Homo sapiens: one gene and its partners. The protein of the gene in region 1 purifies or fractionates together with the protein of each later gene. This does not show direct contact. Each region holds a gene or a part of one and is shown on either strand. Other genes may lie near its edges. The genes, in order: MAK16, ZCRB1 and RPF2.

Region 1 (3,828 bases):
GTGCCCCTACACAGTTTTACGTAATCATTCTAACATAACTTACAGATATAACACTTTAAAACCCTCTATGACTTTCACTATCAAATTAATGCACCATCCTGGGCTATTGTGTGGTAGTACAGGTTGATGTCATGTGTCATCTCCAATGAGAGATCACTGGAGGAAGAGATTTTTACCTATTCTGTCACATGGAATCTAGCATGATTTTAGAAAATGTAAACGAATGAAGATTTCTGTTCTCTTTTCTCAGCTTTTACAAAGTCTGGCTCCAGAGTTGCTAGATTATTTCTGAGACACTTAAATGTATATAGACTTACATGCTTTGTATCTATCAAAGCCTGTGTTAGAATTTAATTTAGAATGTTGTTTACAAAACCATAGGAATTTCAAAATGGAAATGTTCCCAAGGAAGTTTACAAGAGAAAGAAGAAGAAATCTATCTCGTTGGAAAGGCAAAAGCCAGTATTAGCAAGGAGGGGAAATAATTACATTGTCTTTCTTATAAACAACTTGGTAGTTTCTTCCATTTTTATAAGATGAGTAATGAGCACTGATGAATTAAACAGATTTGCTCTTTCCCCCTTATAGGAAAAGGCATTAATAGCTGCTCAGCTGGACAATGCCATTGAGAAGGAATTACTGGAGAGACTGAAACAAGATACGGTGAGAAAGCCATTAGCTTTGGGGTACTGAAATTTTAAGTGGTAGTATGTTGCTAAGACATATTGGGAATTTTTTTTTTTTTTTTTTTTTTTTTTTTTTTTTTTTTTTTTTTTTTTTTGAGATGGAGTCTTGCTTTGTTGCCCAGGTTAGAGTGCAGTGGTGCAATCTCGGCTCACTGCAACCTCTGCCTCCCAAGTTCAAGCAATTCTCCTGCCTCAGCCTCCTGAGTAGTTGGGATTACAGGCACCACCACTGCACCCAGCTAATTTTTGTATTTTTAGTAGAGACAGGGTTTCACCATCTTGGCCAGGCTGGTCTTGAACTCCTGACCTCGTGAGCCACTGTGCCTGGCTGGGAAATGTTTTTTAACATGATATGAAGATCTCCACTCGAATTTTATCCCTGGAATAAAATAAATCCATATCGGCCTGGCTTCCTTGCTTTAATTAATGCAAGCACATAAAATGCTTTGGTTACCCTTGATACTCCATTCACTATAAGAGACCTTTCCCTTTTTGCCATTATTCTCAGCTCCATTCCCCAAGACAACAATTCCAGATTTCTGTATAAAAGCCATGGGGTTTTGCTTCTCCTGCATATTACCCTAGTCTTTTAAGGCTCTTTGAAATAAGTTTTTATTCTCTTTTTAAAAATTAGTGTTGTTTATACAGACAACATGACTAAAGTATGCTTTTTCCTTATTATTTCCCCTTGTCAGCAAAATGACATTTGTCCCAATGCATGGGTTTTGTAGACTATTACATTTTAAATTATTTTAAAATGTAACTCCATAGAAGTTACCTATTTGATACTAACTGCAGATGATTTAAATGTTCAAAAGAACATGCTTTTTTAAGACACTGCTGGCTCTACACTTAAAAATATTACTCATCAAATTAAGTATTCTGATTTAATCACTGAGGAAAAAGTAATATTCTCCACAGAAAGTGGAACTTCAAGTGTAATATCCAAATGTAGTTAAAGCCAATCTGTGTTTATGTTCTTCAGTATGGCGACATCTACAACTTCCCCATTCATGCCTTCGACAAAGCCCTGGAACAACAGGAGGCAGAGAGTGACTCTTCAGATACTGAGGAAAAAGATGATGATGATGATGATGAGGAAGTAAGTCTTGTTTTTGTTTTGCCAAACCTACTAGATACCATTTGTATAAAACTGAGAAACAGAATATCATCTTCAGTCCGCTAACCAAAAATGATATGTCTTCTTTTTTCTTTCATGTGATTAATTTTGGTTTAGCACTGGTTGCTCTGTTCTTCAGGCTAACCAACAAACCATTAACAATTTTAGTCTTAATTTATTGGTCTTCTAAAATTGTTCCTGCAAGGTGACAAATTATAAAGCCTTTCCTGTCTATATGTAGTTTTTAACCATAATGAGGATGTTTTATTGCTAATAATTTAAATCAAGAATAAGAATGATCTGGTAGCCCTAAAATTTTTAAAATTCAGAAGCATTAAATTTAGAAAGAACTAAATTTTCATTGCCTAGTGAAAAGACTGTGGTTCTCATTATGTTATTTTGTACTTACTTAGATGTCTAATCTGAATCTTCATTATGTATTCTGAACCTAACAGTTATGTTTTATTTATAGGATGTGGGGAAAAGAGAATTTGTCGAAGATGGTGAGGTAGATGAGAGTGACATAAGTGATTTTGAGGTGAGCTTTATGGGTAAAAAGATTGTCCTTTGGCCTGCAGCAAAAAAAAAAAAAAAACAAAAACAGGGAGGTGGCCAGGCACCGTGGTTCACTCCTATAATTGCAGCACTTTGGGAGGCCAAAATGGGAGGATTGTTTGAGCTCAGGAGTTCGAGACCAGCCTGAAGAACATAGTGAGACCTCATCTCTAATAAAAAAAAAAATTTTTTTTTTTAGATGAAGTTTCGCTCTGTAGCTCAGGCTAGAGTGCCATAGTGCAATCTGGGCTCATCGCAGCCTCAGCCTCCCGGGTTCAAGCGATTCTCCTCCTTCAGCCTCCCAAGTAGCTGGAATTACAGGCATGTGCCACTCCACCCGGCTAATTTTTTGTATTTTTAGTAGACACGGGGTTTCACCATGTTGGCCAGGCTGGTCTAGAACTCCAGACCTCTGGTAATCCGCCTGCCTCAGTCTCCCAAAGTGCTAAGATTAGAGGCATGAGTCACAGGGCCTGGCCTAAAATTTTTTAAAAATCATGACCAGGCGTGGTGGCTCACGCCTATAATCCTAGCACTTTGGGAGGCCGAGGTGGGCGGATCACATGAGGTCAGGAGTTCGAGACCAGCCTGGCCAACATAGCAAAACCCCGTGTCTACTAAAAATACAAAAATTAGCTAGGTATGGTGGTGCATGCCTGTAATCCCTGCTACTTGGGAGGCTGAGGCAGAAGAATCGCTTGAACCTAGGAGATGGAGGTTGCAGTGAGCTGAGAGCGCACCACTACACTCCAGCCTGGGCAACAGAGCGAGACTCCGTCTCCAAAAAAAAAAAAAAAAAAAATTAAAATTCAGCTGGATGTGGTGGCGGTTGCCTGTAGTCCCAGCTACTCAGGAAGCTGAGGTGGGAGGATTGTTGACTACAGCAGTTTGAGGCTGCAGTGAGCCATGACTATGCCACTGCACTCCTGCTTGGGCAACAGAGCAAGACCCCGTCTCAAAAAAAAAAAAAAAAAAAAATTAAAGAAAGGGACAATTTCTGAACACAGACATAGACAAATCAATGCCCTAGTCTGTTCTAGATTGAGGGGACAAGGAAGGGAGTTTGGAGAAATCTAGTGTTTTCCCTCTTCCTTTATCTTTTCTCTCCCCGTAATAGGATATGGATAAACTGGATGCCAGCAGTGATGAAGATCAGGATGGTAAATCCTCCAGTGAGGAGGAGGAAGAAAAGGCCCTTAGTGCGAAACACAAAGGCAAAATGCCCTTGAGAGGACCACTGCAGAGAAAACGAGCCTATGTGGAAATAGAATACGAGCAGGAGACAGAGCCCGTGGCCAAAGCCAAAACCACGTGATTTCCCTTTCAGCATTTATACCCAGGACTGAACATGCAGAACTGTTTTTTTTTTTTTTTTATCTTAAACACATACACACCTCCAGTTTTTGCTCTTTTGTGTTGTACTGAACACAATATTTGTGTTTTTATTATTTATGCCACGTCAGTGGG
Region 2 (3,600 bases), on another chromosome or scaffold:
GAGACTTGTGTTTGACCCACTTTTTTTTTTTTAATAAAATTCTATTCCACTGACAACATTTAAAAACTGGGAGAGGATGCTTTTTAAAAAATGGTATTTCCAACTTTTTTTGAAAAAATTAGATGTTCTGGCAAAACTGGGATCATATTCTCACATAGCCACAATCAGCTGTAGCTGAGTGGCAGGTGACCCCTTCTAAGGGTGAAGTATTCATTAACGTTAACTGCCTGATCTCTGCAGCATACCTTCAGCACCTGCAATCATTCAAGAAATAACTGACTGTCTTATGTGCCAAGAACTGTATTAGCTACTGGAGTTACAAAGATAAACGAGACAAACACAGTCCCTCACCGACAGTCTCGCTTAGTAGGGATGGCAAAGAAGCAATTAAGATACATGTGATAAATGCCGTGAGGGAAGTGCAGGACAGCTAAGAGTACATAGCAAAAATACCTAACTCTATGGAAGTTAGGGTATACCCCTCAAGTAAAGTGACAGCTAAACTCAGATCTTTAATAGAAGTTATCCAGAAAAAGATAGGAGGAAACAGGGAGCTCAAATGTCCCAGAGAGAGAAAAGAGCCTTTGTGAAGATACTGAGGGAAGAAAGTATTCTGAGGAATTGAAATCCGTTCAACATGGCTACAGCCATGCCCAACCTTTAAATGCAGGGTCAGAGAAAGGGCTCAACTGAAATGGCTGGCAGGAAAATCTACGTGTTATCAATAGTTAAGGTTAGGAGATGAAGGAGAATTTCACTAAAGAAGTTGAATATGTAAAATAGTTTAAGCAGGAAATAGAGGTTTCAGAAAGCACAGATGGGGTGTTGAGGGGTTAAATGGGGAAGAAACGAAGAAGCAGTGATAGCCTAAGTCGAAAGAAAGCACAAAGCAGCATGGAAATGAGACTATAGCACAGAAGACCACAGAAGCTTACATCTTGGGCGGTAACCAAGGATAACAGAGATGTAAAGCATGGTAAGTTTGGCTGGCCACAAGTATGCCTAGAGAATTAGTGCCAGCGGTCTCCTGTCGGCCACGGAGGCATTCAGGCCTCTCAAAATTCAGCTGCGCCCTGGATGGATTGTACTTCCGTCTCTATAGAAGACATCGGCTTCACTCTGGATTGATTGTGCAGGCTCCAGGAGAGGCTGTGGGTTCCAGGCTGCTGGAACGCAGGCTCCCAGGGAGTGGTTAGAGGCCTGGTCTGTATGTGCTGGTAGGCAGAAGTATAAATTACCTTGCATTACGTTCTGATTTTTCTGTAGGAATGGTGGGCATGTTATGGCCTCTTAGAGAAAAAGCAGTGCGTAGCCATTATAGATTTACAGGAAGAGAAAAGGTGCCAAGAAGATCAACACTTGTCCATACCCATACTAAAGATGAGTCATTCTGTGAATCCAACTCTCCCCAAGTTGACCTCGTCTCCCCAACTAGACTGAGATCTTCACCAGAAAACAAAACAAAACAAAACATAAAAGGTCTGTTTATTTTGTAGTTCCCAAAGTGCCTAATAGCTGGGTACCGTGAACACCTTCAGTAAAATTACCGACTTCCTGACTCCTCTCGGGTCACTGAAGTTACCTAGCTCAGTCGTCTTCTTGCATATTAAGGCGCTACAGAGAGGCGAACCCCTATCTTAGACTCAATACTTCCCTTTATTCCAAACTCCACTGCGTCTCTCCACCCTCAACCGCATGGGCAGAATTGTCACACAATTCAAAGGCAGGAGAATCCAGGACCCGACACAGAAAACTCCCGCCCACTCCCCCCCGTTTAGCAGCCCGCACACGCTCTGCATCCATCTCTGGGAAAGGTAAAAAGCGCTCACCGACTCTGGCCCTCCGGGAGACCCCGTAAATGCAGCCGTCCGCTCGCCGCCGTTATCCCAGGTAGGTACTTCCGGCGCGCGCAATGACGTTAGCGAAGCGCTCGCCTCTGGGCCCGCCTTCGGGGCCCGGATCTCAAACAGTCGGGAAGAAGCACCGTGGCTGCTATTATCTGCTCTCCGCGCCTGACCCCTCCCAGGACTCGTGATGCCAAGGCCGCTGCGAGCGGCTACGAAGAGTCGGGGTTGAGCCCCAGCTGAGCCGAGGGCTCGCACTCTTCTGGTCTCCCAGGCCCAACCCACCTGAAGGTAAACGCCTCCTCAGCTGCGGCCTTCTCTCCTGCGGGGCCCCCTCCCCAGACTCGGCTGCCAAAACGCTCTGCCCCTCTCTCCCGCCACCCTTTTTATTCCAGGACCTTAACCTCTGCCTGCCTTCGCGGCTCTCAGCAGAACGTGTAACGCATAGTTTCAAATGAGAAACTTAAAAAGCGACGTATCTATGTTGAGTTCCTGAAGTTTTCTAAATAATTCCCCCATAACACCAAACATGAGGCAGTTTTCTCATTCCTTCACGAATTGGCATGCCATAGAGTCAGTATTTTTCCATTTGTGATGGTTGATCTTCCCATCTCAAATACACACCGCACGCTCTTTTTAAATCAGAAATTTGAATTTGGTTGAGCCTGATATTTTCACGGTAATTTGCTGACTTTGTAAGATAAGATGTGAAAATTACTGATTACATTTGTAAACTTTATATACATATACACACATACCTACAGGTCTGTCTCTTCGAGGCACCAAGCCTATTTATATAATGTATCATTTCATAATTTGGCAATAAGCAAAATTAGCGTTTCGAAAGAAGTTTATATTGTCGATACATAAAGCTTAAATTTACTCCTTAACATCATACTAAAAGGGGAAAAGAAAATTTTCCTCTTAACACACCACTCCAGAGAAAAAAAATATTAAGACAAGCAAAAAAGGTACCCAGCCATAGTACAGGCATGCACAGCATAACAACTTTTTGATTAACAACAAACCACATATACCACAGTGGTCTCCTAAGAGTGTAATACATTGTACCATATTTTTAGTGTACGTTTTCTGTGTTTAGCTATGTAAATATTTACCATTGTGTTTCAACTGTCTACATTATTCACTACATTAACATGCTGTACAGGTTGTAGCCTAGGAGCAATAGGCTAGACCATCTAGGTTTGTCTCAGTACACCCTGTGATGTCTGCACTGTGAAATCACGTAACACTCAGAACATACCTCCTTCATTAAGCATAGCATGACTGTGTATTAGCAAAAATCAGTGGCTAAGGTTCTGTCTGAGTCCCCATGCTCTTTCTGACCTGGGTGAGCAAGGTGCAGGTAATGTACATATACAGTACATATTCAATAGAGCATTTTTTTTGCTCATGGTCTGAGTGGAAGTTAGGAGTAGCCTCAGGGTTTTTCCTTCATCTGTTCAAAACCCGTCTCCCTACCCATACAATCTGGCACTGAAAGTGTTGGTATAAAGAATACTTGAAAGAAGAAGAACCAAAAAAGAATTTTTTTTAAGTGGTGACTGGGAAAAAGGAATTCCTTAATTCAGCCTGCTGGAGTCATTGTTCCTAACTTCCTAAAATGTAAGGAAGGTGTACACATCTGGCATAATTAAATCGGTGATTGTTAATACTTTATTGGTTTTTGTTTTTTGTTTTTTTCCAAATAATACCCAGACTGGTCTGATGTATTGGTTTTATTTGGAATTAATAA
Region 3 (3,828 bases), on another chromosome or scaffold:
TCGAGAGGCTGAAGCACTAGAATCACTTGAACCCAGGAGATGGAGGTTGCAGTAACCTGAGATTGCATCACTGCACTCCAGCCTGTGTGACAGAGTGAGACTCTGTCTCAGAAACAAAACAAAGCAAAGCAAAACAAAACAAAAAAACACAAAGCAGCATAATCCATAATAGCCAAAAAATAGGAACCATTCAAATGTACATAAGCTGCCGGGTACAGTAGCTCACGCCTGTATTCCTAGCACTTTGAGAGGCCAAGGCGGGTGGATTACCTGAGCTCAGAAGTTCAAGACCAGCCTGGCCAACATGGTGAAACCCTGTCTCTACTAAAAAATACAAAAGTTAGCAAGGTGTGGTGGTGCGTGCATGTAATCCCAGCTACTTGGGAGGCTGAGGCAGAACTGCTTGAACCCGGGAGGTGGACGGCGCAGTAAGCCAAGATCGCACCACTGCACTTCAGCCCTGGCGACAGAGCAAGACTATGTCTAAAATAAAAAAAGTACCTAGGTTGATAAATGGATAAACAAAATGTGGTATATCCATACAAAGGAATATTATTCAGTCCTAACAAAATGGAAGTACTGATCCACGCTACATGTATGAACCTCAAAAAGATAGTGAAAGAAGTCAAACACAAAAGGCCATACGTTGCACGAAACCATTTATATATGTTCAGAATAGGCAAATCCATTGAACATAAAGTAGATTATTGGTTGCCAAGGGCTGGCAGGAGGGGGAAGTGGGGCATGGACTGCTACTGGGTGTGTGTGTCAGGGGGGTTCTTTTTGAGGTGATTAAATATTCTGGAATTAGTGGTGATATTTGCACATCTTTGTGAATACACCAAAAATCACTGAATTGTACACTGTAAAGGGGTACATTTTATGGTATGTGAAGTATATGGTAACTTAAAAACTGGGGAAAAATCACGAACAGCAGTACATTTTCTGCGCATCTTTTATGTACTAGGCAACTGTGGTAGTCATAAATTCTGTCACACAGATCGCATAGTTGTCAATAGTGCCCCTTTCACATCAATGTTTTTAGTGCTTATGTGAGTACCTACCGTGCAATCAATCAACCTTTCTAGCATCCTGGGATTCCTTGAAGAATAAAATCTGGTTTCTGAATACCTGACTCCAGGTATGCACACTAGCGCGTACATCAAACTGCGAGGGTCTATGTTATTTTATTTTATTTTTATTTTATTTTTGAGACGAAGTCTCGCTCTGTCACCCAGGCTGGAGTGCAGTGGCGCGATCTCCGCTCACTGCAACCTCCGCCTCCCGGGTTCAAGCAGTTCTCCCTGCCTCAGCCTCCCGAGTAGCTGGGGTTAGAGGCGCCCGCCACCACGCCCGGCTAATTTTTGTATTTTTAGTAGAGACGGGGTTTCGCCATGTTGGCCAGGCTGGTCTCGAACTCCTGTTATCAGGTAATCCGCCCGCCTGGGCCTCCCAAAATCCTGGGATTACAGGCGTGAGCCACCACGCCCGGCCAGTGTTACTTAAAAGTATTACCTCGCACCTGTAACTCCAGGAAAGAGCCGGGGCAAAAATCCGTAACCAAGACAACAGGGCGCGATTCCAATCAAGATGGCCGCCAGCGCCTCTAGACGCCCTCTACGAGGCCGTCCCCGGAAGTGGCGTTACGCGCAGCTTCCGGTTCCGCCTGTTCCGGCGCACGTAATCGCCGAGGGCACGTGCATGCCCCCTGGTTAAGAGTTGCAGGTAGCGGTAGCGATGGACACTCTGGATCGAGTAGTGTAAGTGCGCTGGGTCTCAGCCCCGGGGAGCGTTGGGGTGAAAGGGTCCCGTGATGAGGGTGGTACTGTCTCGGCCTCTCACTCTTCCTGGTTACCCCTCTAATTACCTGGGTGGGGGCCGATCGATCACCAGCCCGGGTCCTCCTCAGCGCGAGCTGCTTGCCAGGAGACAGTGGGGAAGCTCTCAAGTGGGAGCCGTGGGATGGGAGGGATGTGGGATTGAAGCGTTGGCCGCTTTTATCCTAGCCAGTTGAAAAACGTCTGACTTCCGAAGTATGAGACAGATGGTATAGTGGGGTTAGGAGCACAGCCCTCGGAATCCGACAGATCTGAGTGACAGTCTGGCGCGTCCACTTAAAGCTTTGTGACTTTGGGTCATTAAATATCTCTAAATCTTAGCTTATTCTGTAAAATAGCGCTCACCATAGTCATACTTCATAGAGCTGTGAGGGTTAGTTTCGAGAATGTATGTAGAGCCTTTGCTGCAGCACGTAGAAATGTTCATTAGTTTTTTCTTTTCCTTCCAACTTTGTACACTCCTCTGAGTTATCCTTGAATGATACCTGTTTTAAATTTGTTCAAGAATATTTGGGCTAAACAGCCCTGCTGTTACTTGCTGTGATTTTCTTGCTATTTACCTAAGTTAACATGTATCCAAAACGACAGTTTTAGTCATTCAGAGATTTTGCACACCTGCTATGCCTCTAGCTGTTTGGACTACAAAGAGTAGTTTACTAGGTATTGGGACTAGTTCACACGTTAATTGGGAGCAGGCAGCTAATAAAACATGTTAATTGCTATTTGCATTTGTTGCTGTTTAATGAGATACAAAAGATAGAATAATTTGTATCTTTATCAACCAGTAAATGATCAGAAGCTTTATATGTGACATTATATCTGGAGGAGTATTTTAAAAATCTACATGGGAAACTTAAGTGTATGTATGGTCTCTTTTTCTTCCCAAAGTGTCCATGGGACTGGACGAGGGAGGGTCATAATTATTTGGGAGGAAGAATTCTTTCAGTAGATGGCAGAGAACTGTCTGAAAAGCAAGGTGCTCATTGTAGAGGAAGCAGAGGTGAAGCCCCTCTTTTGAACAGAAGTGTGTAAAAACATGCCACTCCTACTGTCACATCATAAAGTCAGAATAATGAATTTATTTTCCCTTCATATTTTACAGGGTAATTGGTCTAGACGAATTTTTAAATCTAGCTTTAAAAAATTTGTTTTTTTTTGAGACAGGGTATCACTCTGTCACCCAGGCTGGAGTGCAGTAGCCCCATCACAGCTCACTGCAGCCTCGACCTCCCTGGGATCAAGCAGTCCTCCTACCTCAGCCTGCTGAGTAGCTGGGACTATAGGCGCACACCACCACAGCTAATTTTTGTATTTTTTGTAGAGACAGGGTTTTGCATTGTTGCCCAGGCTGGTCTCGAACTTCTGGGCTCAGTGATCCATCCACCTTGGCCTCCTAGAGTGTTTTTATTACAGGCTGTGGGCCACCTCCCAGCCCTAGCTCATTTTAAAAATTGGCCTGTTTACTTGCTGTGTGATCTTGGGCACATTACCTGTCTGTTCAATTGCCTCATCTGTAAAGTGAAGATAAGAATTGTAACTCGCGCGTGGAGGCTCACGCCTGTAATCCCAGCACTTTGGGAGGCTGAGGCGGGGGGGTGGGTCACGAGGTCAGGAGATCGAGACCATCCTGGCTAACACGGTGAAACCTCGTCTGTACTAAAAATACAAAAAATTAGCCGGGCGTCGTGGCGGGCGCCTGTAGTCCCAGCTACTCGGGAGGCTGAGGCAGGAGAATGGCGTGAACCTGGGAGACGGAGCTTGCAGTGAGCCGAGATCGCACCACTGCACTCCAGCCTGGGCGACAGAGCGAGACTCTGTCTCAAAAAAATAAATAAATAAATAAATAAGAATTGTAACTCTCAGGATTGTGGTGAAGATTAAGCCTTAATAGAGTGACTCCATGTAAACATCAGCCTTATTATTCCCCATTGTTGGCAATAATACTGGCATTCTCAGCAATGATGTTGGAGTGCAACAGTGTATACTTCCT

The links.
Region 2: the proteins of MAK16 (region 1) and ZCRB1 purify together in Homo sapiens (affinity purification with mass spectrometry; 2 studies listed by BioGRID and IntAct, with this or other methods). This does not show direct contact.
Region 3: the proteins of MAK16 (region 1) and RPF2 purify together in Homo sapiens (affinity purification with mass spectrometry; 2 studies listed by BioGRID and IntAct, with this or other methods). This does not show direct contact.

Annotation. Positions count from the first base shown.
Region 1 is NC_000008.11:33,494,954-33,498,781, forward strand, and holds part of MAK16 (protein MAK16 homolog), read left to right. Parts: intron 1-588; coding exon 589-663; intron 664-1,671; coding exon 1,672-1,788; intron 1,789-2,278; coding exon 2,279-2,344; intron 2,345-3,478; coding exon 3,479-3,676; 3' UTR 3,677-3,828.
Region 2 is NC_000012.12:42,324,459-42,328,058, reverse strand, and holds the start of ZCRB1 (zinc finger CCHC-type and RNA-binding motif-containing protein 1), read left to right. Parts: upstream 1-1,964; 5' UTR 1,965-2,135; intron 2,136-3,600.
Region 3 is NC_000006.12:110,980,370-110,984,197, forward strand, and holds the start of RPF2 (ribosome production factor 2 homolog), read left to right. Parts: upstream 1-1,668; 5' UTR 1,669-1,737; coding exon 1,738-1,760; intron 1,761-3,828. UniProt on the Homo sapiens protein: Involved in ribosomal large subunit assembly. May regulate the localization of the 5S RNP/5S ribonucleoprotein particle to the nucleolus.